Linked DNA regions of Homo sapiens: regions 1 and 3 are each linked to region 2. The links come from fine-mapping of genetic effects on gene expression. A gene starts in region 2. Each other region holds a variant in brackets. All regions are shown on one strand. Distances are from middle to middle. Region 1 overlaps MXRA8 (matrix remodeling associated 8). Region 2 holds the start of INTS11 (integrator complex subunit 11). Region 3 has its middle 7.4 kb from the start of MXRA8.

What was found. PIP is the estimated chance that this variant, and not a neighbour inherited with it, causes the effect.
Region 1: its variant is the best candidate, but not a certain one, in a credible set for the expression of INTS11 in tibial artery (GTEx, PIP 0.62).
Region 3: its variant is the best candidate, but not a certain one, in a credible set for the expression of INTS11 in whole blood (INTERVAL, PIP 0.72).

The regions. Positions count from the first base shown.
Region 1 is chr1:1,351,031-1,357,621 of GRCh38, reverse strand. MXRA8 (matrix remodeling associated 8) reads left to right here. Exons shown (of 10, transcript NM_032348.4): 2 at 918-941; 3 at 1,870-2,172; 4 at 2,277-2,378; 5 at 2,470-2,940; 6 at 3,113-3,268; 7 at 3,390-3,429; 8 at 3,516-3,592; 9 at 3,694-3,774; 10 at 3,993-4,931. The coding sequence ends at 4,018. Among named protein-coding and RNA genes, the nearest start is that of MXRA8, 4.2 kb to the left of the region's middle. RefSeq lists enhancers at 554-1,106, 2,231-2,861, 2,862-3,493, 3,494-4,125. The variant G/A (reference allele first, on the strand shown) is at 4,531.
Region 2 is chr1:1,320,345-1,327,241 of GRCh38, reverse strand. INTS11 (integrator complex subunit 11) reads left to right here and starts at 2,582. Exons shown (of 17, transcript NM_017871.6): 1 at 2,582-2,661; 2 at 6,149-6,246; 3 at 6,713-6,786. The coding sequence starts at 2,634. CPTP (ceramide-1-phosphate transfer protein) reads right to left here and starts at 2,440. Exons shown (of 3, transcript NM_001029885.2): 1 at 2,140-2,440; 2 at 210-406; 3 at 1. The coding sequence starts at 331. RefSeq lists silencers at 1,984-2,483, 2,664-2,793 and enhancers at 3,612-4,121, 4,885-5,393.
Region 3 is chr1:1,362,474-1,369,370 of GRCh38, reverse strand. It overlaps a transcript of MXRA8 not described here. Among named protein-coding and RNA genes, the nearest start is that of MXRA8, 7.4 kb to the right of the region's middle. The variant ACTCATTCAATCACACT/T (reference allele first, on the strand shown) is at 2,928.

The DNA.
Region 1 (6,591 bases), 31 kb before region 2:
TTGGCCAGGCTGGTCTTGAATTCCTGACCTCAGGTGATCCACCTGCCTTGGCCTCCCAAAGTGCTGGGATTACAGGCGTGAGCCACCATGCCTGGTGGGGGAGTTTTAACTGGTGGGTTTAAGGCAAGCGGCACGAGCCCCGTGGGGCCACGCTGACTGTGGGGGGACTCCGTGGTGCAGCTGCACAGTCCATGTGGGGCGTGGGGTCTGTGGGGACACAGGGGGTGGTCACCAGGGGACAGTGCGTAGGGCGGGCGTCTGGGTGGATCAGCTCGAGGACGGGGGATGTGAATTGGAAACTGTCCCGGGTGGCAGCCCCGCTTCCGGTCAGAGAAAGTCCAGCCTAGATTCAGAGTGGATGCCGAGGCGGCCTACGACAATGAGAGTCCCTCAAGCAGCAACGCGGGCCTGTGGGGCGGCAGCCGGGGTCACGACCCACATTCAGCCTTCAGGCCTCTGCCCTGCGGAAGCACCTCAGGGGCTGCGCTGAGCCTTAGGTGTGGTGTGGGGTCCCCAGCGTCTGAGGGTCCAAGGACCCTCGGGGGCTGGGGCACAGCCCTGGAGGGAGCGTGGGGGAACCCACAGATCCAGCCTCCTTGGTGCTCTGGGTGACTTGGGTGCAGCCAGGTGGAGTGGCCCCGGTGACAAGCACACACCCCAGAACCGGCTGGCTTGGAGCCTGGCCCTGGCCCACGCCCATGCCCTGGCTTCCCCACTCAAGGGCAGGTGCCATCCAAAGCCCAGCACGGTGGCAGGGAGGGCTATGTAGGTCTGTGTGAGAGGCGTCCTCCCTGCACTGAAGTGGGTGTCACAGCATCCACTTTGGGACTACAGGAGGGACTCTGGGGGCCAAGTGGGGGGTCTCGGGGCTGGGTGGGGCTGTGGGTGGCCTCTCCAGCTCACTCCTCTCCTTCCAGGCTCTGCTGTTCTCCTGCACTCAGGTTAGTGACCCCAGCCCCAGCTGCCCACCCCCACTCCCCCTCAGCCCCTCCTATCTTGCCAGGCCCAGCCCCCGGGGGTCCTCAGGCCCTGCCCCTCCCCCACTGATTCCCCCTTGCTCATCAGGACCCTTGGGCACCTCCCCTTGCCAATAACTCCCCCTCCCCCAATGACTCCTCTTCCCCTACCAGGGCCCTTGGGGGCCTGGCCCTCCCCCACAGACTCCCGCACACCCACCAGGGCCCTCGGGGGCCCACCCCTCCCCCACAGATGCCCCCACTGACTCCCCTTCCCCAACCAGGGCCTTCGGGGTCTGCCCCTCCCCTACTGAGTCCCCTTCCCCACCAGGGCCCTCGGGGCCCACCACTCCCCCATGGACTCCCCATCCCCCACTAGGGTCCTTGGGCCCCATGTCTCCCCGACTGACTTGCCCTCCCCCATGGACTCCCCCTCCCCTGCCAGGGCCCTCGGGGGTCCACCACTCCCCCAATGATTCCCCTTCCCCCACATGGGCCCTAGGGGGCATGCCCCTCCCCCATGGAATCTCCCCCACCACGAGGGGCCTCAGGGGCCCACACCCCCCCAAAGATGCCCCCAACCCCGCCAGAGTCCTTGGGGCACACCCCTCCCCCAGTTACTCCTCCTCCTCCACCAGGGTCCTCAGAGCCCGCCCCTCCCCCACTGATTCACCCTCCCCCATCAGGACCATCAGGGTCCGCCCCTCCCCCAGTGACTCCCCCTCCCCTATCCAGGCCCTCGGGGGTCTGCCCCACCCCACGGACTTCCCCTCCACCACCAGGGCCCTCTGGTCCTGCCCGTCCCTTACAGACATCCCTCCCCCACCAGGGCCCTGCCCCTCCCCCACTGACTCCCCCAACCAGGGCCCTAGGGGGCCCACCCCTTCCCCCACCGACTCCCCTCCCCCACCAGGGTCCTCGGTACCCGCCGCTGCTGGCAGCTCCGTGGTGTCCGAGTCCGCGGTGAGCTGGGAGGCGGGCGCCCGGGCGGTGCTGCGCTGCCAGAGCCCGCGCATGGTGTGGACCCAGGACCGGCTGCACGACCGCCAGCGCGTGCTCCACTGGGACCTGCGCGGCCCCGGGGGTGGCCCCGCGCGGCGCCTGCTGGACTTGTACTCGGCGGGCGAGCAGCGCGTGTACGAGGCGCGGGACCGCGGCCGCCTGGAGCTCTCGGCCTCGGCCTTCGACGACGGCAACTTCTCGCTGCTCATCCGCGGTGCGGGGACCGGGGACCGGGGCCGCGGGGTCGGGGCAGGGGTCCGGGGCCGCGGGGTCGGGGGCACCGCAAGGCTCACGCGCGGCTTCCTCCTGGGTGCGCAGCGGTGGAGGAGACGGACGCGGGGCTGTACACCTGCAACCTGCACCATCACTACTGCCACCTCTACGAGAGCCTGGCCGTCCGCCTGGAGGTCACCGACGGCCGTGAGTGCTTCCCCCCCGCCCCCCAGCTCCCGCCCCTCGACCCTCGACCGCCGCCCCGGCCCGCGCGCCGCTGACCGCGCCCCCTCCGCAGCCCCGGCCACCCCCGCCTACTGGGACGGCGAGAAGGAGGTGCTGGCGGTGGCGCGCGGCGCACCCGCGCTTCTGACCTGCGTGAACCGCGGGCACGTGTGGACCGACCGGCACGTGGAGGAGGCTCAACAGGTGGTGCACTGGGACCGGCAGCCGCCCGGGGTCCCGCACGACCGCGCGGACCGCCTGCTGGACCTCTACGCGTCGGGCGAGCGCCGCGCCTACGGGCCCCTTTTTCTGCGCGACCGCGTGGCTGTGGGCGCGGATGCCTTTGAGCGCGGTGACTTCTCACTGCGTATCGAGCCGCTGGAGGTCGCCGACGAGGGCACCTACTCCTGCCACCTGCACCACCATTACTGTGGCCTGCACGAACGCCGCGTCTTCCACCTGACGGTCGCCGAACCCCACGCGGAGCCGCCCCCCCGGGGCTCTCCGGGCAACGGCTCCAGCCACAGCGGCGCCCCAGGCCCAGGTGAAGGAGGCCTCCCTGGGACCCGGGAAGGCGGGAGCCCACCCCACCGGGGGTTGCTCTGCGCCCGCTGTCCCTTGCCCGAGGCCCGCGGATCCCAGCGGGGGCCGTGGCCCGGGTCGGGGCGCAGGTCTTGCTGGTACCTGACGCCGCCCCGACCCCGCGTTCCCCGCAGACCCCACACTGGCGCGCGGCCACAACGTCATCAATGTCATCGTCCCCGAGAGCCGAGCCCACTTCTTCCAGCAGCTGGGCTACGTGCTGGCCACGCTGCTGCTCTTCATCCTGCTACTGGTCACTGTCCTCCTGGCCGCCCGCAGGCGCCGCGGAGGTGAGGCTGCCCCGGCAAAGCCAGCGGCCCCAGGAGACTGAGGTGGGCGGGAGGGTGGTCCTCTGGGCTGGGGGACCTGCGGAAGGGGCGGCACTGCCCCCAATGTGAGTCTCCTTCCCAGGCTACGAATACTCGGACCAGAAGTCGGGAAAGTCAAAGGGGTGAGTGCCCCCCTCCCGGCCCTCCTGGGGACCAGGGCCCCCTTCACCCCACCCAGCTGTAACCTCCTCCCACCCTCGCCATCCAGGAAGGATGTTAACTTGGCGGAGTTCGCTGTGGCTGCAGGGGACCAGATGCTTTACAGGAGTGAGGACATCCAGCTAGGTGAGGCAGTGCTGGGACACGAGGGCACAGGCGCGGCTCCCAGTCCCGGGCTGGGAAGTGCATCCTGGGAGCGGGGACCTCAGCCTCCTCTCCTCCCACAGATTACAAAAACAACATCCTGAAGGAGAGGGCGGAGCTGGCCCACAGCCCCCTGCCTGCCAAGTACATCGACCTAGACAAAGGTGAGCGGCGGGGGCGACCTCAGCCCATCTCAGAGCCCTGCCTGTCCCCATTCCACCTCACCTGGGACCAACGATGGCAGGCACCAGCCAGGCCCGGGGCCCCTGCCACCTCAGGCTCAGAAATCCCTGGGGAGTCCTGCGGGGGGGTCTGCCCTGTGTCTCCCACTGTGATGAGGGTGGAGGACAGCCGCCAACCCGTTGGCGCCCTTGGCTTCCAGGGTTCCGGAAGGAGAACTGCAAATAGGGAGGCCCTGGGCTCCTGGCTGGGCCAGCAGCTGCACCTCTCCTGTCTGTGCTCCTCGGGGCATCTCCTGATGCTCCGGGGCTCACCCCCCTTCCAGCGGCTGGTCCCGCTTTCCTGGAATTTGGCCTGGGCGTATGCAGAGGCCGCCTCCACACCCCTCTCCCAGGGGCTTGGTGGCAGCATAGCCCCCACCCCTGCGGCCTTTGCTCACGGGTGGCCCTGCCCACCCCTGGCACAACCAAAATCCCACTGATGCCCATCATGCCCTCAGACCCTTCTGGGCTCTGCCCGCTGGGGGCCTGAAGACATTCCTGGAGGACACTCCCATCAGAACCTGGCAGCCCCAAAACTGGGGTCAGCCTCAGGGCAGGAGTCCCACTCCTCCAGGGCTCTGCTCGTCGGGGGCTGGGAGATGTTCCTGGAGGAGGACACTCCCATCAGAACTTGGCAGCCTTGAAGTTGGGGTCAGCCTCGGCAGGAGTCCCACTCCTCCTGGGGTGCTGCCTGCCACC[G/A]AGAGCTCCCCCACCTGTACCACCATGTGGGACTCCAGGCACCATCTGTTCTCCCCAGGGACCTGCTGACTTGAATGCCAGCCCTTGCTCCTCTGTGTTGCTTTGGGCCACCTGGGGCTGCACCCCTTGCCCTTTCTCTGCCCCATCCCTACCCTAGCCTTGCTCTCAGCCACCTTGATAGTCACTGGGCTCCCTGTGACTTCTGACCCTGACACCCCTCCCTTGGACTCTGCCTGGGCTGGAGTCTAGGGCTGGGGCTACATTTGGCTTCTGTACTGGCTGAGGACAGGGGAGGGAGTGAAGTTGGTTTGGGGTGGCCTGTGTTGCCACTCTCAGCACCCCACATTTGCATCTGCTGGTGGACCTGCCACCATCACAATAAAGTCCCCATCTGATTTTTAGACTTGTCCCAGGTATGCTTCTGAAACTCCGTCTCCTGGGGCTGGGCAAGGCATGAGTCTGGGCCTGGGAGTCCTCGTCTCCACCTGGAACCCCTGACATCATCCCATTCCTTGGGCTGAAAGGTCTGGGTCTGGGTCCTCTGGGAGTCGGTGTCCTGGGAAGGGGACCTTTGAGCTAGTTCTGTGTGGCTTCTGGTCGTGGAGGAGTTCAGATTCCCTTGAGGGCTGACCTGGACGTGAGGAGGGGGGACGTGGTGGTGGCTGTGAGGCCAGAGGGAAGGCCGTGGGAGCACAGCTCTTGGAGAGGCAGAGGGACGAGGAGCGGGAGTAGTGGGATGCGGGTCAGACACTTGCAAAGGGGGCGGGAGCAAAGAGGCTCCAGCAGAGACAGCCCGGGACAGCAGGGTGGTTCCAAGAGTCTTGGCCAGGCCAGCACGGATCTGGCCCTAGAATCCTTTCCCGCTCAGGCATCAGCTGGTTGGGTGCAGGATCTCAGCACAAGTTCAGGCGGTGGGAGGAGTGGCGGGAGCAGGAAGGCCCGTGGCCCGGGGTCCTGGCAGCACAGACCAGCGACTAACTGCTGCTTCTTGAAGCTGGCGTCACCACCCAACCCCATCCTCCAGTCCTCCCAGGACAGTGGGGGTGGGAAAGGGTGACAGTTGCCCACAAGGACCCCACACAAGCATGGATGGGGAGGGAGGGAGGCTGGTCTGGGGAGGTGTGGCTTGAAGATGCACCCCCCTCCCAGCCCGGTTACCTCTGGCCTCACCAGTGGCCACACCTGTCAGGGCCCCAGCTGGACCACATCCGCGTCAGCAACGGGACTGGCCTCAGGCCTCTGGCTTCCAGCCTCTCTTGAGACCTAGCCTGGGGTCAGGCCCTCAGGGCAGGGACAGGCTTCCTCCCTCCCTGGGGCCTCAACAGATAGCCCCTCTTAGGTCTTCCTGCCTGGCTTCTGACCTCTGGGGAAGAGAAGGGCTGCGGGAAGGTGGAGGGGGCTGGCGGCTAAGCTGTCCGGGCTTGGCTGAGCAAACGCCACAGTTCTCCCTCTCAGAGCCCGGGTGCAGGGTCAGGATCCCAGGCCCAAGCTGACCGTCAAGCACTGGTGCCTGCACTGATCGGTTTCTTTCCGAGCCGGTGCAGCCCCCAGCACGGTCAGGGCCCGATAGATGCCAGTTCCATCTCGCCGGCTTCCTGGGGACGGGAACCAAGGGACCCCACCGCACTCTCTTCCCCATCGCTCCAGCCCCGTCCAGGCCCCCTCCTCACTCCCCCCGTCGCTCCTGCCCCGTCCAGGCCCCCTCCTCACTCCCCCCGTCGCTCCTGCCCCGTCCAGGCCCCCTCCTCACTCCCCCCGTCGCTCCTGCCCCGTCCAGGCCCCCTCCTCACTCCCCCCGTCGCTCCTGCCCGGTCCAGGCCCCCTCCTCACTCCCCCCGTCGCTCCTGCCCCGTCCAGGCCCCCTCCTCACTCCCCCCGTCGCTCCTGCCCCGTCCAGGCCCCCTCCTCACTCCCCCCGTCGCTCCAGCCCCGTCCAGGCCCCCTCCTCACTCCCCCCGTCGCTCCTGCCCCGTCCAGGCCCCCTCCTCACTCCCCCCGTCGCTCCTGCCCCGTCCAGGCCCCCTCCTCACTCCCCCCGTCGCTCCTGCCCGGTCCAGGCCC
Region 2 (6,897 bases):
CCTGTGGAAGGGAGCGGGGCTCGAGTCCTCGCCCAGGCCTGGGGCAGCCCGCCTGGGGTGCAGGGGACGCTGCCCAGCCTGCGGGGGCTCACACCCATCTGGAAACGGGCAGCAAAGCTGGTGGGGACAGGCAGTCGGGAGGCAGATGCCACATATGGGACTCGGGCCAGGGGAGCGCCCACCTCAGGAGGCAGCCCTGGCACACGCACCTGACCAGGCCCTTCCAGCTGGCAATGTAGGGGTCCAGCAAGACCTCTTCCTTCTCATCGAGACACTGCTTGAAACTGACCAGGACGACTTTCAGATTGAAACCTGTCTCCGAGTCATCCATTTTTTGATAGGAACGGAAATACAGTAGGGCTGGGGGGCTGTGTCGCTGGGGTCAGCTTGCTCTGTGGCTCATTTTCTGTGTGTGGAGGGGAACAAAATAGCTGCGATCCCATTGCCGCTCACTGAACACTCATGCCCCTCATGGAGCTTCCTCCCAGGAGCTGCCTGGCTCTGCTCCCAGCCAAGCCGCAGGCTCTCAGGCACACCACCCTGACCCACCCTTCATCAGGATTGCGCATTCAGGGACCTTGGCACAGCCCCTCCTGTGGATCAGGCCACTGACTCCGTGTCAGTCCCTGACCCCGAGAGTGGCCCCCTCTGGCTTTATCAGACCACTAGGCCCCGCTGTCTGCAGCAGGTGTCTCTGCTGGTGCTTTCTTGTTTTTGTTTCTCTCTCTAGATGCTGTATCTGCTTTTACCAGCTGGAGAAATACTAAGCCCCTGCCGAGAGCCAAGCACCATCCTAGCCATCTATCTGGGTGCATGGGGAGTGCGAGCAGCCATCTGGGGTGGGGTCAGATGACAACAAAGACAGGAAGTTCTGAAGTCCTAGACAAGAAAACAGACACAGCAGAAAGCAGAGACAGGTGGGGCCGGGGGTGGGGGGATGCTGCCGGGCAGGCTGCCCCATCTTCCTCACTGCTACATCCCCAAAAGCAGAAAAGAGGCTGTAGGGCTGGCACTTGCTGGATGGATGGACACGTGTTTTCACTCCTGTTGCTGAAACTCCATGTCCCACACAGATGGGTTTTACCACTCAGAAGATTGCCACGAGGCTCTTGTACTAGCCCTAGGGAGCCTTCCACGAGTGGCCCAGGCCCTGCTTTGGATTCTGCTGGCATTCACATAGTCACTCCACAGATCCACAGACATCCAGGCACCCATGCTTTGTGTGAGTGTTGCCAAGCACCCTTGCCCTGTCTCCCCGGGTGCCCCACGGGCCCGCACCTGCTCTGGGGAACCTGAGAGTCAGCTGCATTCCACCTCGACCAGGAAGAGGGCCTGGGGGTTCCTAGGCCGGTTGGTGCTGGGAGCCCTGTCCTGGCCTCCCTGGCTGCAGGGACTCCATCGGTGGGGGAGGGGGAAGGGCACCCAGCCGTGGTGAGAGCTCCTGGCCAGGAGCAGGTGGGCAGGTTGCTCAGCACCCTAGGACTGGGCCCTTCATCACTAGGGATCATGGGCTGCAAGCCCTGCCCAGCCCGTGGCCCAGGCTGCTGGAGCACTGGTGCCTGCAGGGTGCTGAAGCCTGGCGTTGCAGGCCCCACAGGTTGGGTTGCATGCTTGGCACCAGGCGGAGGCCCCAGATGTGAGCTCACCGGGCTTCAGGTGTGGGGGATGGCTGCTCCTGGGCCTCAGAAAGATGCAGTCCCATAGACTTCCAGCACGCCCCTCCCCTCCTCGGGCCTTAATTTTGTCCACTGAGAAGATGGTCTCTGAGGCTCTGGGGTTTCCTTCTTGGTCACCAGATATTCTGCGGGCCTTGCCTTCCTGCCCAGATTCGAGCCAGTGGCAAACAGAAGCTGCCAGGAGCTTCTCAGAGCTGTGGCTGGTGGCTCGGTAACAACAGGAAGGGCAGTGGCTGTGCAGGAGGCAGGCAGCTTGCCAGCCCAGGAAGGTGACCCAGGACACCTCCAGGCCTTTCCCAGGGCAGCCCAACGGCCCAAGGTCAGGGCCGGGCGCGAGGGCGGCCTGAGCACAGAGCACGGGGGCTGACAGCAGGCTGGGGGGCCAGCAGGAGACGGGGCCCCACGGCGCCCCAGGCCTTGTGGGTGGGACCAGACCCTGTCGAGCGAGCGCTACGAGTCTCACCTGGGAAGGGGGCTTCAGATGGCACCGGACTGGATGGGCACCGGTTCGGGTCCCTGCTCCACCGAGAGGCCCAGGAAGGGGCGGAGGCCCGGGGTGGTGTTGGGGAGGGGCCGACCTGAGCCACGGCTCCGTCCTGCGCGGGAGCCGGGTCCTCGGCCGCCCGCCCGCTCCGGCCCTCTAGGACGACGTCCCCTCCCGCTCCCGGCCCCTCGGCGACTTCCGGACCGTGCGGGTTGGGTTGGGCAGGTGCGGCCGCCGAGTCCGAGCCGCTCACCTAGGCCGTAGCCGCCGTGCGGGCCCCGTCCCCGCCCACCGCCCCGCCCTCGCCCCGCCCTCGCCCGCCGCCCTGATTGGTTGGATGCTGCCCAATCAGGAGGCCCGGCGCCCCGACCCGCGTTTCCGGCTAGCGCACCGGAAGTTGCAGCGAGGTGGTTGCGCCTGCGCAGTGCATCACCGCAGGCGGGCCTCGCGGGTCCGGGAGCGCGGCGGAGACGATGCCTGAGATCAGAGTCACGCCCTTGGGTGAGTGGGAGCCGCCGGGAGGGCTGTGGGGTGGGCTCCGTATGCGGCTCCGGGCGGGCTGGGCGCCCCGCTCCCTCCCGTTTCTCGTGGAGCCAGGTGCGCGCCGCGGGCGTCCTCCGGTCTCCTCCCCGCGCGGGCCCTGGTGGGAGCCGAGAGGCGGCCTAGTCCCTGCACCCCGGGCCTCCGGCAGTGACGCGAGAACGCGAGCCCCGAGGTTCAGGCGGCCGTGAGGGGACGTCGCAGATGGGGCCGCGGGGCCTTCGCGCTCGCTGTGCGCTTTCGTCGGTGCCTTGACCTCCCCGTGCCGCGCGCTGCCGCCTCCAGCCCTACCAGCCCTTCAGTCCCTTAGCCCCTCAGCCCCGCAGACCCTCAGCCCCCCAGCTCCCCAGCCTCTCAGCCTCCCAGCCCCTCAGCCCCCCAGCCCCTCAGCCCCCCAGCCCCCCAGCCCCTCAGCCCCGCAGACCCTCAGCCCCCCAGCTCCCCAGCCTCTCAGCCTCCCAGCCCCTCAGCCCCTCAGTCCCTCAGCCCCCCAGCCCCCCAGCGCTCCAGTCCCCCAGACCCTCAGCCCAGCAGACCCTCAGTCCCCCAGCCCCTCAGTCCCCCAGCCCCTCAGCCCAGCAGACCCCCAGACCCTCAGCCCCCCAGCCCCTCAGCCCCCCAGTCCCCCAGCCCCCAAGCCCCTTAACCCCGCAAGCCCCTCAGCCCCCCAGCCCCGCTTCTGCCTCCTCACGTCTTGCTTTCTGTCCACCACTCTGTGTGCTCACGCCCGAGTTACAATCAACTCTCACTTTAGCTCTTGTTCTACCTGATTTCTGCAACACTGAAAAAAATAGCAAAAAACGCAAATATGTACTCCTAAAAGTCCTGACAGTCTGGGCACTGTGGCTCACGCCTGCAATCACAGCACTTTGGAAGGCAGAGGTGGGAGGATCGCTTGAGCCCAGGAGTTCAAGACCAACCTAGCCAACATGGCAAGACCCCATCACTCCAAAAAAAAAAAATGCTAAAATTGGCAGGGCGTGGTGGTGTGTGCCTGTGGTTCAAGCTACTTGGGAGGCTGAGTTGTGAGGATTGCTTGAGCCCAGGAGGTTGAGGCTGCAGTGAGCCATGATTGTGCCACTGCACTCCAGCCTGGGTGACAGCAAAACCATGTCTCAAAAGAAAGTCAAAGTCGTAACAGTATAGAACGATGTGAAGAAGGAAAAAATTAGTCAAAATCCAGGGTCTCAGAAACAGCTGGAGGGACATGGTGTTGGTGGCCAGTCATCCTGATGTCCTTAGCGTTTTCCACAGGTGCCTGCCCTGTGCTGTCCTGGAACCTGGTCCTTCCACCGGGCAGGGGGTCGAGGGCACCTTCCAGCACAGACACCAGGACGGGATTCCATGTCCTCCCCCATGGCGTGAGCGCTTCCTCGGAGGGTGCCCCCCGCCCCGGTGTGGACACTGTGCTGTGAACACCCCTGGCCTGTGCACACCCCATGGCATTTTGCAGCTGTTTGCATGGGCCCCACTGCCCTCCCCTGCTCTCTGGGTCCTCCGTGGGGTCCTCCCAGCCTGCCCCTTTCCCATTTGGCCTCTTGGCTGCCTGTTCTGCCCACTCTCTGGACATCTGATCTTTCTGATCTTTCATGTGGCTTCAATTACCCGCAATCTGTACCTGGGTATATTCTCAAGGTCACCTCAGCCAAGGTATCATCAAAGCCGAAGTCCTGTTTCACCGCTTCCCTGCACCAGGGACTGCCTCGGGCTCCGTGTCCGCGCTCACTGGACCACTGCTGTGTCCTTGGGGTCACTCCCACGCCTTGGCCTGTGTGTGGCTACCCCCCCCGCCGCCGGTCCCCCTACCCACCCTGCCCATCCCTCCCCACCGCCGGTCCCCCCACCCACCCTGCCCGTCCCTCCCCCTGCTGGTCCCTTCCCTCCCCCCTGCCTGTCCCTCCCTGCTGCCTGTCCTCCCTCCGCCCGCCCCGCTTCTTCTCCTCCCCTGGACCATCCCTTCCCCACCCCGTCCCTCCCCCTCCCCCACCCTACCCCTCCCCTCCCCTGCTCAAAAGTTGGCTTCTCGGAGCAGTCTCCTGTCATGGTTCTGGAAGTTTTGAGGCTTCCTCATTCTCTCACCTTGCTCTTTTCTGTCATAGTAACCTTCGTCTGGCGTGCTTTGGGTGTCTTGTTTGTCTGCCGTCTGTCTCCTTGCTGACAGGGATATCTCCTCCTGTCTTCTGAGCCCTGTCCCCTCGTGTATCTCCAGGCTCTATTCCCGCACCTTTCCACTTTCCTTCCTGGGATCACTGTGGGTCCTGTCGGGAGGCGGGACTGCCAGTACTTCAGGACTGGGCTTTGGAATTCAGAAAACCAGCCCGGGCCCCATGCCTCGGGGCCGTGTGCCACAAGTGCCTCTGTGGCCTTAGGTCCCTGGGCATGAAGAGGGGCGGCCCTCCCTTCCCACAGGTGCCAGAGGGCCTCTGTGAGCCTGGCGTGGCTTGGGGTAGGAGATGCAGAGGGAGGAGACAGCTGAGACCCTGCTCTCAGAGAGCTCACACCCAGCGGGGGCAGGAACAGGCCTGGAAGAGAACCTGAGATCCCCTCTCTGTGGCAGGCAGCCCCTCGGCTGTGGCCCCGTCATCCTGATGTGTGGTGCTGGCTTTGGACACTTCGAGTGGCTGGCAGGGGGAGGTGGGTGGGATTCAAGGGGAAAACTGTTCACTGCCATCAGACTCCTGCCCAGGCACAGTCTGTGCAGGGGCCGTGACCCTTTCCTCTCGGGCCCCCAGGCCACATGAGGGGGCTGAGTGTGCCTTGGCTGGCCAAGGCCTCTGGCTGGAGCAGCTGGGCAGGGCTGCTTGGCTGTCAGGAGTGTGGGAGGGCTGCAGATGAGGGTCTGTGTTGGGGGCTGCATGGTGTGCAGTGGTGTGAGGCTCGTGTTGCCACGCTGGCCACTGCTGGACCACTGGCACCGTGTTCGCTATGGCATGGCTGAGGCTGTGTGGCGCCCCTCCACAGCCGCACCACCAGAGAACACCCAGTGCCAGCACTTAGTCACTTACTGCCTTGCCTGCCTGGGGAAAGATCCTGGAGAAGGTGGCCTCATTGGTTTGCAGCTCTGCTGGGGGTCCAGCCACAGCCCAGGAGTGACTCTGACCGAGGTGTTGGCCCCACAGACCAGCCGTTGTCTCTGTTGGAGGCTGAGGGCCACAGCACAGTGCCCACTACTTAGCCAGCAGGCCGTGGCCACCTTAAGAGGCCAGGGGAAGCTGGCGGGGGAGGGCGTGTGGGCTGCCAGCCTCCACCCTGGACATGATGGTGTGGGGCATGGTCCCCTGTGTCCCCCTTCCTGTGAGTAGGGGTGGCCCTGCTTCTTGGCCCATGTGTCTGTCCACACAGCAGACTTGGTCCGGTTTCCTCAGTGCACTGGGGTCCTGCAGAGCTTGGGGAGGCAGCACAGGGGGCGGGGGGCGCAGCAGTGACTCATCTGCCCTCCCTCGAGTAGGGGCCGGCCAGGACGTGGGCCGAAGCTGCATCCTGGTCTCCATTGCGGGCAAGAATGTCATGCTGGACTGTGGAATGCACATGGGCTTCAATGACGACGTGAGTCCCTTGGGCAGGAGGCCCAGAGGCTGGGAGAGCCGGCCATCCACAGCTGGACCCTGGGCCTCAGAGCCGGGACAGTGGGGTGGTGGGCAGCAGTGGTTGTGCTTGGATGGCTGCACCCTGTGGGGAGCAGGGATGGGTGGGCCTGGCCGAGGTGAGCCCCTGCATGGTGGGGTCCCCCTGTGCTGGCGCTGAGCCCCAGCCCCGGGGTCCTGTAGGCTGGACTCCGTGAGACCCTGGGCTCAGCTTCCAGCTCACATCTGTCAGTGAGGTTGGGGGTAACCTCGGCCCCTCCGGATGCTGTGAGCAGCCAGGGGTCCTGGTGCCACCTGCGGGATGGGAGTGCCCAGCCTGAGTCTGCACATAGAACCCCCCTTCCTGGGGGCCCCTCCCTGGGGCATGGGTGGCCCCAGATGCTGCCTGGAGACCACTGTGCAACCTGAAACCCCCACATCCTTCCTAGCGACGCTTCCCTGACTTCTCCTACATCACCCAGAACGGCCGCCTAACAGACTTCCTGGACTGTGTGATCATTAGGTGGGTTCCTGTTGGGGGCCTTGAGGGTCCCATGTCTGTGCCTGTGGGGCTTGGGCCACCTTGCTTGGTCTCGGCAGCGTTTGGCAAGGGGCCTGTGCCATCCTTGATCCT
Region 3 (6,897 bases), 42 kb before region 2:
CCATCCTGGACAACATGGTGAAACCCCATCTCTACTAAAAATACAAAAAACTAGCCAGGTGTGATGGGCGGCTGTAGTCCCAGCTACTCGGGAGGCTGAGGCATGAGAATGGCGTGAACCCGGGAGGTGGTGCTTGCAGTGAGCCGAGATCGCACCACTGCAGTCCAGCCTGAGGGATAGAGTGAGACTCCATCTCAAAAATAAAGGAAAACAGTATCTCTTCCCCCATCCCCACACCACCTTTCCCAGAGGCAATTTTAGTCCTTTTAAATGATTCTTGCGGTAGTACCATGTTTTAAAGTTGGTGACTTTCAGACCTTTTTTTTTTTTTTTTTGAGACAGTATCTCACTCTGTCCCGAGACTGGAGTGCGGTGGCGCGATTTCAGCTCACTGCAACCTCCACCTCCCAGGTTCAAGCAATTCTCCTGCCTCAGCCTCCCTGCTAGCTGGGACTACAGGCATGCACCACCACGCCCGGCTAATTTTTGTGTTTTTATTAGAGACAGGGTTTCACCATGTTGGCCAGGCTGGTCTCAAATGCCTGACCTCAGGTGATCTGCCCGCCTCGGCCTCCCAAAGTGCTGGGATTACAGGCGTGAGCCACCACGCCCAGCCAGACCTATTTTTATTTTTTAAGAGGCAGGGTCTCCCTCTGTCGCCCAGGCTGCAGTGCAGTGGTGCCATTATAGCTCACTGCAGCCTGTAACTCCTGGGCTCAAGCCAGCCTCCCAAGTAGCTGGGGCTACAGGCATACACCACCAGGCCCAGCTAATGTTTTTTTCCAGCAGAGATGGAGTCTCACTAAGTTGCCCAGCCTGGTCTCAAACTCCTGGCCTCAAATGATCCTCCTGCCTTGGCCTCCCAAAGTGTTGGGATTATAGGTGTGAGATACCACACCCAGCCTACTTTCAGACTTTTTTGATCAAGATACAAAATAAGAAATATCTTTTTACACCGCTATCTGATGAACACACCCACCATTGAAAGTTGTACAGAATAGTATCTCTCATAAGTACAATAAACTGAGATATTGCCTATTCTAGTCTTGCTGCACCTTCCTGCCTGTAATCCCGCACTTCAGGAGGCTGAAACAGGTGCATTACTTGAGCCTGGTAGGTCAAAGCCAGCCTAGGCAATGGAGCAAGACCCCATCTCTACAAAAAAAAAAAAAAAAAAAAAAAAAAAAAAAAAGCCAGGTGTGGTTGTGCCCACCTATGGTCCCAGCTACTCAGAAGGCTGAGGTAGGAGGATCACTTGAGCCTGGGAGGTTGACCTGCAGTGAGCCAAGATCGCACCACTGCACTCCAGCCTGGGCAACAGAGTGAGACTGTCTCAAAAATAAAAATGAAAAAGACCGGGCGTGGTGGCTCACGCCGGTAATCCTAGTACTTTGGGGCACAGAGGTGGGCGGATCATGAGGTCAGGAGATCGAGACCATCCTGCCTAACACGGTGAAACCCCATCTCTACCAAAAATACAAAAAATTAGCCAGGCGTGGTCGCAGGCGCCTGTAGTCCCAGCTACTCGGGAGGCTGAGGCAGGAGAATGGTGTGAACCCAGGAGGCGGAGCTTGCAGTGAGCCGAGATGGTGCCACTGCACTCCAGCCTGGGGGACAGAGTGAGACCCCGTCTCAAAAAATAAATAAAAAATAAGTTGCTCCTGATCCACTGAACTGAATTTACACTAATTCACACTCACCAGTTCACATTCACCAATTCATACGTGCCAATCCACACCCATCCACACTCATTCATACACTCACTCAACAATTCACACCTATCGACATTCACCAATTCACACTCATCCACACTACACACACCAGTTCAACTCACCAATTCACTCACCAATCCACACTCATTCACACTCGCCAATCCACACTCATTCATACACCAAGTCACACTCATCCACGCTCTAACAGTCACCAATTCACACTCATCCACTCATTCACACTACACACAATTCAACTCACCAATTCACTCAATTCACACATCCACAACCAATTCACACTCATCCACACAGTCACCAATTCACTCATCCACTCATTCGCACTACACACACCAATCCACACATTCACACTCACCAATTCACACATTCACTCTCACCAATTCACACATCCACACTCAACAGTCACCAATTCACACTCATCCACACATCCACACTCATCCACACTACACACACCAATTCAACTCACCAGTTCACTCACCAATCCACATTCACACACTCACCAATTCACACTCATCCACACTCGCCAATTCACACTCATCCACACTACACACACCAATTCAACTCACCAATTCACTCACCAATCCACACATTCACACTCACCAATTCACACATCCATACTCGCCAATTCACATTCATCCACACTCATCCACTACACACACCAATTCAACTCACCAATTCACTCACCAATCCACTCATTCACACAATTCAATTCACACCAACTCACCAATTCACTCACCAATTCACACTCACCAATTCACACCAACTCACCAATTCACACTCACCAATCCATTCAGACACCAATTCACACCCACGCTTTAACACAGTCACCAATTAACACTCATCCACACTACTTCACACCAATTCACTCAGTCACCTGTTTACTCTCATCCACACGCTTATTCACACTACACACACCAATTTACACTCACCAATTTAATTCACCCATCCACACATTCACACTCACCAATTAACACCCATCCACACTCATCCACACTTCACACCAATTCACTAATTCCCACTCATTTACACTCATTTCACACTCGTTCTCACACTAATTCATATTCCTTCACACCCATCCACACTCACCCACATTCACACTCACCAATCCTCACTAATCAATTCACTCACTCACCCTTTCACACCCATCCACACTAATCCACTCATTCACACATTCACACTCGCCCATTCACCCTAATTCAC[ACTCATTCAATCACACT/T]CATTCACATTTATTCACATTCACAGTCACCAATCCAGTCATTCACCCATTCACACCAATCCACTCATTCACACCCATTCACACATTCACACACCCATTTACACACACCAATCCACATTCGTTCACACTCATTCACGCACACCAATCCATTCACACTCATTTACATTCACACTCGCCCATTCACACATTCACACTCGCCCATTCACACTCATCAGTTCACACTCATCCACTCATTCATTCTCTCACCCATTCACATCCATCCACTCATCCACACCACTTCACACTCACCAATTCACTAATTTACACACCCGTTTACACTCATCCACACCACACAATTCACACCAATTCACAAATGCACAATCACCAGTTCACACCCATCCACACTCATTCACACACAGTCTCACGAATTCACACCCATCTGCACTACTTCACACTCACCAATTCACTAATTCACACTCAATTTATAGTCATCCTTTCACAATCATTCTCACGCTCATACTCGTCCTCCCCTCCCAGGCTCAGGCCATCCTGTCACAGCCTTTCCTAGCTGGGATCACAAGTGTGCACCACTACACCTGGCCTAATTTTTATTTTTATTTATTTTTTTTGAGACAAAGTCTTGCTTTGTCACCCAGGCTGGAGTGCAATGGTGCAATCTCAGCTCACTGCAACCTCTGCCTCCTGGGTTCAGGCGATTCTCCTGCCTCAGCCTCCAGAGTAGCTGGGACTTCAGGCGTGCACCATCATGCCCAGCTAATTTTTTTATTTTTATTTTTATTTATTTATTTATTTTTGAGAGGGAGTTTTGCTCTTGTTGCCCAGGCTGAATACAATGGCACGATCTCAGCTCATCGCAACCTCCGCCCCCTGGGTTCAAGTGATTCTCCTGCCTCAGCCTCCAGAGTAGCTGGGAGTTCAGGTGCCCACCACCATGCCCGGCTAATTTTGTATTTTTAGTAGAGCTGGGGTTTCTCCATGTTGGTCAGGCTGGTCTTGAACTCCCGACCTCAGGTCATCTGCCCACCTCAGCCTCCCAAAGTGGTAGGATTACAGGCATGAGCCACCATGCCCAGCCTTATTTTTGTTTTTTATTTTGTTTTTGAGACAGAGTTTCACTCTTGTTCCCCAGGCTGGAGTGCAATGCTGCAATCTTGGCTCACCTCAACCTCCATCTCCCAGGTTCAAGCGATTCTCCTGCCTCAGCCTCCCGAGTAGCTGGGATTACAGGCGTGCACCACCATACCCGGCTAATTTTTGTATTTTTAGATGGGATTTCTCCATGTTGGCCAGGCTGGTCTTGAACTCTCGACCTCAGGTAATCCGCCCCCACTCAGTGTCCCAAAGTGCTGGGATTACAGGGGTGAGCCACCACGCCTGGCTTTTTTTTTTTTAATATAGAGTCTCACTCTGTCACCCAGGCTAGAGTGCAGTGGTGTGATCTTGGCTCACTGCAACCTCTGCCTCCTAGGTTCAAGAGATTATCCTGCCTCAGTCTCTTGAATAGGTGGGATTACAGGCATATGCCACCATCCCCAGCTAATTTTTGTATTTTTAGTAGAGATGGGGGTTTCACCATGTTGGCCAGACTGGTCTCGAACTCCTGACCTCAGGTGATTTGCCTGCCTTGGCCTCCCAAAATGCTGGGATTATAGGGGTGAGCCTGGCCTTATTTTTTTATTTTTGACTGGGTCTTGCTATATTGTCCCGCCTGGTCTCCATAATCCTGGGCTTAAACCTCCTGCCTCCACCTCCCAAAGTGCTGGGATTATAGGAGTGAGCCACCGCACCCAGCCGATTTTTCTATCATAATTGCGTACATCAAATTTGTAATTATAACCAAGGTAGAAATGTTACATGTAACAGCCGACCTCCCTTGGTGAGGAGGGAGAAGCCACCACGGAGGATCCAGGATGTGCATTCCATGTGGCAGCCGTGGCCTGGCCCTCGCCTGAGGCTGGTGTGACAGCTGCCCTAAGACGTGCCCAGCCGGGAAGGGAGGCGGATGCAGAGTCCCAGAGGTGGAGTCTGACCCTGCAGGTGGAGCCACCGCAGGTAACTGGCAGCACTCAGTGTTCTTTGTTCCCGATTTTAAAATTGATCAGGCATGGTGTCTCACACCTCTAATCCCAGAACTTTGGGAGGCCGAGGTGGGTGGCTCACGAGGTCAGCAGTTCGAGACTAGCCTGGCCAACACATTGAAACCCCGTCTGTACTAAAAATACAAAAATTCGCCGGGCGTGGTGGCTCATGCCTGTAATCCCAGCACTTTGGGAGGCTGAGGCAGGTGGATCACAAGGTCAGGAGTTTGAGACCAGCCTGACCAACATGGTGAAACCCTGTCTCTACTAAAAATACAAAAATTAGCTGGGTGTGGTGGTGCACACCTGTAATCCCAGCTACTCCAGAGGCCGAGGCAGGAGAACTGCTTGAACCCGGGAGGCGGAGGTTGCAGTGAGTCGAGATTGCGCCACTGCACTCCAGCCTGGGCGACAGAACGAGACTTCATCTCAAAAAAAGAGAAAAAAAGCCGGGTGCAGTGGCTCACGCTTGTAATCCCAGCACTTTGGGAGGCTGAGGCGGGTGGATCATGAGGTCAGGAGATCAAGACCGTCGTGGCTAACACGGCGAAACCCCGTCTCTACTAAAAAAAATACAAAAAATTAGCCAGATGTGGTGGCGGGCGCCTGTAGTCCCAGCTACTCGGGAGGCTGAGGCAGGAGAATGGCATGAACCCAGAAGGTGGAGCTTGCAGTGAGCAGAGATTGCGCCACTGCTCTCCAGCCTGGGCAACAGATCGAGACTCCATCTCAAAAAAAAAAAAAAAAATTAGCCAGGCGTGGTGGCGGGCACCTGTAATCCCAGCTACTCGGGAGGCTGAGGCAGGAGAATAGCTTGAAACTGGAAGGCAGAGGTTGCGGTGATTCTGAGATTGCACCACTGCTCTCCATCCTGAGCAAAAGAACAAAACTCTGTCTCAAAAAAAAAAAAAGAAAAAACTGATGGATCTCGCCTGTAATCCCATTGCTTTGAGAGGCCGAGGATCGCTTGAGGCCAGGAATTTGAGGCTGCAGTGGGCCAAGATGTTTGCACCACTGCCCTTCAGCCTGGGTGACACAGTGAGACCCTGTCCTTTTGTTTTGTTTTTGAGACCGAGTCTCACTCTGTCGCCCAGGCTGGAGTGCAATGGCACAATCTCGGCTCACTGCAACCTTTGCCTCCCAGGTTCAAGCAGTTCTTCTGCCTCAGCCCTTGGAGTAGCTCGGACTACAGGTGCACACCACCACACCCGGATAATTTTTGTATTTTTAGTAGAGATGGGGTTTCACTCCTTTCTTTTTTTTTTTTTGAGACGGAGTCTCGCCCTATCACCAGGCTGGAGTGCAGTGGTGCAATCTCGGCTGACTGCAACCTCCATCCCCCAGGTTCAAGTGATTCTCCTGCCTCAGCCTCCCAAGTAGCTGGAACTACAGGCACCTGCCACCACGCCTGGCTAATTTTTTGTATTTTTAGTAGAGACGGGGTTTCACCATGTTGGCCAGGATGGTCTCCATCTCTTGACCTTGTGATCCACCCACCTCGGCCTCCCAAGGTGCTGGGATTACCGATGTGAGCCACCGCGCCCAACCCTTTTTTTTTTTTTTTTTTTTGAGATGGAGTCTCACTCTGTTTCCCAGGCTGGAATGCAACGGCACGATCTCGGCTCACTGCAACCTCCACCTCCCGGGTTCAAGTAATTCTCTTGCCTCAGCCTCCCAAGTAGCTGGGACTACAGGCACCTGCCACCACGCCTGGCTAATTTTTTGTATTTTTAGTAGAGACAGGGTTTCACCATGTTGGCCAGGATGGTCTTGAACTCCTGACCTCAGGTGATCTGCCCACCTTGGCCTCCCAAAGTGCTGGGATTACAGGCGTGAACCATCTTGCCTGGCCGAGACTTTGTGGCTTAAAAAAAAA